Linked DNA regions of Homo sapiens: region 1 is linked to region 2. Evidence: fine-mapped expression QTL. Tissue or cell type: lymphoblastoid cells. Region 2 holds a variant in brackets; the other region holds the start of a gene. All regions are shown on one strand. Distances are between the middles of the regions.

Region 1 (2,682 bases), 69 kb before region 2:
CTGAAGGCGCAGAGGCAGGCCCAGCAGGCCCAGAATGTGCAGCGCAAGCAGGAGCAGCGGGAGGCCCACAGGTCCAGGCAGAGCTGGGAAGGGCAGGGCCAAGGGGGGGTCCCTGGGATGGGCGGCTATGTTGACCCCCACGCCCTCCTCCAGAAAGAAGAGCCTGGAGGGCATGAAGAAGGCACGGGTCGGGGGTAGTGATGAAGAGGCCTCTGGGATCCCTTCAAGGACGGCGAGCCTGGAGTTGGGTGAGGACGATGATGAACAGGAAGATGATGACATCGAGTATTTCTGCCAGGCGGTGGGCGAGGCGCCCAGTGAGGGTATGGAGTGGGGTCTGCAGCAGGGCACCCAGAGCCTGTCCTTGTCTCTGGGGGCCCTGACACTGTCTCTCCCCACAGACCTGTTCCCCGAGGCCAAGCAGAAACGGCTTGCCAAGTCTCCAGGGCGGAAGCGGAAGCGGTGGGAAATGGATCGAGGCAGGGGTCGCCTTTGTGACCAGAAGTTTCCCAAGACCAAGGACAAGTCCCAGGGAGCCCAGGCCAGGCGGGGGCCCAGAGGGGCTTCCCGGGATGGTGGGCGAGGCCGGGGCCGGGGCCGCCCAGGGAAGAGAGTGGCCTGAGCCCAAGCCGCACCGGAGCAGCGGCTGGATTGAACGCCCCAGATTGGGGCCCGAGATGTGGCCCTCGGTTTCCTTTCATAAAGGAGTTGTGTCCCCAGCCCTTCCACTCCAGTAAAGAACTGAATTGGCCAGGGGTCCACGTCAGCGTTTGGGATGGGGGATTCTGGAGCCATACAAAGCAACCCAGAGAGTCCTGGGCCGGCCACACCCGAGAGTCCCTCCCACCTGGTTTCTTCCTGGAAGCTGGGTCTCTCCCCTACCCTGCACGGGGTTGGTTTCATTGGTGGCAGCAGCAGCCATGAGTGGCCCCTCCCCCCAGTCCCACCAAAGAGCCGTGCAAGCAGACAGGTCACACTTTCAGCAGATGAGCTTGAACCTCAGGAGGGTTGTGGCACAATGAGGAAGGAAACGTGGGTGGAAAGGCACGCTGGCCTGCTCTGCTGGCTGGGCCAGTAACTGGGGATGGGGCTGGGGCAGGGCCCACTAAGCCACTGGTGACTGGGGGAGGGGCTGGGGAACTGGGTAGCAGACACAGGCTGAGGATCGGCACGGGAGCATGGCAGCCAACGTCTCGGGTAAGGAGAAGGCATGTTGGCTGTCTCTGGGGGTCTGCAGATTGTCAGGAGGTGGGGGTAGTGGGTATTGGTAAAACACCTAGGTCTGGGGCTGGGCACGGTGGCTCACGCCTGTAATCCCAGCACTTTGGGAGGTCGAGGGGGGTGGAACACGAGGTCAGGGGTTCGAGACCACCCTGACCAACAAGGAGAAACCCCGTCTCTACTAAAAATAAAAAAATTAGCTGGGCCTGGTGGCACATGCCTGTAATCCCAGCTACTCGGGAGGCTGAGACAAGAGAATCACTTAAACCCGGGAGGCGGAGGTTGCCATGAGCCGAGATTGCACCATTGCACTCCAGCTTGGGCAATGAGCGAAACTCCATCTCAAAAAAAAAAAGCCTAGGTCAAGGCTGGGTGTGGTGATGCGAGCCTGTGATTCCAGCTACTCGGGAGGCTGAGGCAGGGGGATCACTTGACCCCAGGAGGTCGAGACTGCACTGAGCTGTGATTGCACCACTGCACCTCAGCCTCGGTGACAGTGAAATCCTGTCTCCAAAAAAAAGCCACGTCTAGACGACACTTCCTCCTTAAGCAGGCTGGCGTTGGGAGCAGGGAGGCGCCTCCGGAGAAGCCTGTCCCCAGCCTGCAGAGGCAGGGGTGGGGTGCACAAGGAGTGAGTGCCCCTGTGCTGCTGTGCCCTGGGCACTGTGGTGAGCACTGGCACCAGTAATGGGTAAGCAGGCCCCCCCATCCTCCCGAAGGAGGGAGATTTTTCTCACCGTCATCAGGTGGCGCAGGGTATGGGGGAAAATAACGCAGGGAAGGGAGAGTGGAGGCACGAGGGCTGCTGTCAACAGTGGTTAGGGTGGCCTTGGGGCCTCTCGCAGGCAGGACCACGGACGTGGGAAGAGGAGCCTCAAGAATGTCTGGGTGTGGCTGGGCACGGTGGCTCACACTTGTAATCTCAGCACTTTGGGAGGCTGAGGCGGGCAGATCTGAGGTCAGGAATTCGAGACCTCTTGGCCAACATGGGGAAACCCCATCTCTACTAAAAATGCAAAATTTAAAATTAAACCAGGCGTGGTGGTGGGTGCCTGTAGTCCCAAATACTCAGGAAGCTGAGGCAGGAGAATCACTTGAACCCGGGAGGCAGAGGTTGCAGTGAGCTGAAGTCACATCATTGCACTCCAGCCTGGGTGATGAGAGTGAGACTCTGTCTCAAAAAAAAAAGTCTGGGTGCGAAGGTACCAAGGCACAAGTCTGCAAGAGCAGCCAGGAAGCCTGGGTGGGCTGGTGCGAGGGAGTGAGTCGCGGAGCACAGAGGGTGGCACTGGGGGGTATGGCGGGCGGGAGCGCTCTTGGGGGACCTTGTGGGGTGAGTCTGGCTTTTTGGCGGCAACTCCCTGGCCAAGTGTGAGCACCTGGAAGCAAAAGGATGGGGCAGGACTCCAGCGCTCGCGGGTGCTCTCTGGTGGCCACGGGGAGAAGAGGCTTTGGGCGGCG
Region 2 (2,682 bases):
AATACTAGCTACTTGGGAGGCTGAGGCAGGAGAATCGCTTGAAACTGGGAGGCGGAGGTTGCAGTGAGCCGAGATCGCGCCATTGCACTCTATCCTGGGCGATAGAGCAAGACTCTGTCATTAAAAAAAAAAAAAAAAGAAAGAAAGAAAGAGAGTTAAGCAGGGCCAGGCGTGGTGGCTTATGCCTGTAATCCCAGCACTTTGGGAGGCCAAGGCAGGTGGATTACTTGAGGTCAGGAGTTCTGGACCAGCCTGGCCAACATGGTAAGACCCCATCTCTACTAAATACAAAAATTAGCTGGGTGTGGTGGCACATACCTCTAATCCCAGTTACTTGGGAGGCTGAGGCAGGAGGGTCTCTTGAACCTGGGAGGCAGAGGTTACAGTGAGCCGAGGTTACACCACTGTGCTCCAGACTGGGCAACACAGTGAGACTCCATCTCAAAAACAATTAAAAATAAAAGGAATCATCTGCTCTTACGCTTAGCCTCTCCATCGGACTTGCTCCTCCTGGGCGTGCGAGGTTTGGAAAGGGGTTTGGGGGGGCTGTTGGCATCTGCCATTCCCACTCTACGGGCTTCACTTCTTGCTTGGTTCCCGTTTTCTAGACGTCCATTCACTTCCCGGTTGTAAGCATGAGCACCGTTCTCCAAGGACAAATCTTTATTTAAAAGGGATTTGACTTTAGCCAGGTAGCCCTCCTACAGCAGGAAAGGATAATTTAAGTAGCAGTGAATGTAAACAAGTGTCAGAGAACAAGGAAACACATGTGTTTCCTTCATCATCATCATCATCATCATCATCATCAGGCAATGAGGACAGCTGGGGATCTTGCTGCCTCCCTGGTCACAGACAAGTTACTAGGAGGAGACATTTTTCTAGAGGCTAGGATGCTGAGAACTGACTTACCTCGGATAATTCTTCTTTACGTAATTTGGTTTCCAAGTCACATAACTGATTCTTTATTTCTGTTTGCAGAAATTCGTGCAAGAGATTCAATTTCTCCTTCACACATTCCTAAGGGAAGGATATAGGTTTAGCAGTACCCACATTCCCAAGCTATTCACTAGTGGACTAATACACAAATTATTGAGCTGCCTGATCACATCACAATGAGTGAATGGCAGGCAATGCTGTCTCAGTCAAAACACTAAACAGTCATGAAATGTGTTCAGGGAATTTCCATTAGGATCACTTCACTCCTGTCTCCAAAGTGGTGAAAAATGGGAAAGCTGGAGGTGAGATGGAGACATATCATGGTTTATAAGAATAATACTGTGCTTCTGTAAAGTGTCGGCCAGGCACAGTGGCTCACACCTATAATCCCAGCACTTTGGGAGGCCGAGGCAAGTGGATTGCTTTGAGCCCCAGAGTTCAAGACCAGCCTGGGGCAACATGACAAAATCCCATCTTTACAAAAAATATTT[A/G]AAAATTAGCTGGGCATGGTGGCTTGAGCCTGTAGTTAGAGCTACTCAGGAGGCTGAGTGGGAAAATCACTTGAGCCTGGGAGGCGAAGGTTGCAGTGAGCCAAAATTGTGCCACTGCACTCCAGCCTGGGCTACAGAATGAGACCCTATCTCAAAACAATAACAAAAACACAATAAAACAGTGTTACCAGGACAAGTTACAATCCAGAGTAGATTGTTTAGGAACTGAGATTGGTTAAAAAAAAAAAAAACCTGGGCCAGGCATGGTGGCTCACGCCTGTAATTCCAGCACTTTGGGAGGCCAAGGTGGGCAGATCACGAGCAGGCGTTCAAGACCAGTCTGGCCAACATGGTGAAACCCCATCTCTACTAATAATATAAAAATTAGCTGGGCATGGTGGTGCGTGCCTGTAGTCCCAGCTACTTGGGAGGCTGAGGCAGGAGAACAGCTTGAATCCGGGAGGCAGAGGTCACAGTGAGCCGAGATCATGCCATTGCACTCTAGCCTGGGTGACAGAGTGAGACTCTGTCTCAAAAAACAAAAACAACAACAAAAAAAAACACCACCACCACCCAACTATTAGCAGCAAATTAGTGCTGACATTTAACAAGAATATCCAAATTATCTTTGAAACTCCATGGGAAAAAATGCAAAATCCATTTAAAGAAAACAAATTTCTTTTTATGAGCCACAAAGTGTGTCAGTCAGATTTGGTAATAAGAAAAATTTTAAGGTGGAGATTACCTTTTCTGTTAAGCTGTCTCTTTCCAAATCTTTGAGCCTGGGAGGAAGAAATAGGGGAGAAAATACAAACACTTGTTAAGCAACTTCATTTGCCTGTAAGAATATCACAGTTCTAAAGAAGTTTTGGACACAAACAAGTTTAACATATGAGTGTTAGAAAAAACTAAGCTGGCTTTTGTCTCCCCGCAAGAGTCTAGAGTGTCCTACTGGAATGCCTAATGCTAAGAAGTCATCTGATCTGAACAAGGTTCCCCTTTTGGGGGTCATTTTTCTGATGATTGTGAGATTACATAGCAGCTCTGTAACACAATTATGTGTATGTGTGTGTGTGTGTATATATATACATATATATGTGTATATATATACATATATATGTGTATATATATGTGTGTATATATATACATATATATGTGTATATATATGTGTGTATATATATACATATATATGTGTATATATATGTGTGTATATATATACATATATATGTGTATATGTGTATATATACATATGTGT

Evidence for each region. PIP is the estimated chance that this variant, and not a neighbour inherited with it, causes the effect.
Region 1: it holds the start of P2RY11, and the variant in region 2 is fine-mapped to the expression of P2RY11 in lymphoblastoid cells (TwinsUK, PIP 0.95). The same link has a PIP of 0.9 or more in whole blood.

Annotation. Positions count from the first base shown.
Region 1 is chr19:10,110,544-10,113,225 of GRCh38, forward strand. It overlaps P2RY11 (purinergic receptor P2Y11), which reads left to right and starts at 1,150. Exons shown (of 2, transcript NM_002566.5): 1 at 1,150-1,197. The coding sequence starts at 1,179. It overlaps PPAN (peter pan homolog), which reads left to right. Exons shown (of 12, transcript NM_020230.7): 10 at 1-71; 11 at 154-323; 12 at 402-1,469. The coding sequence ends at 622. It overlaps PPAN-P2RY11 (PPAN-P2RY11 readthrough), which reads left to right. Exons shown (of 13, transcript NM_001198690.2): 10 at 1-71; 11 at 154-323; 12 at 402-541.
Region 2 is chr19:10,179,869-10,182,550 of GRCh38, forward strand. DNMT1 (DNA methyltransferase 1) reads right to left here. Exons shown (of 41, transcript NM_001130823.3): 2 at 2,173-2,209; 3 at 910-1,017; 4 at 482-701; 5 at 319-366. Among named protein-coding and RNA genes, the nearest start is that of DNMT1, 14 kb to the right of the region's middle. The variant A/G (reference allele first, on the strand shown) is at 1,428.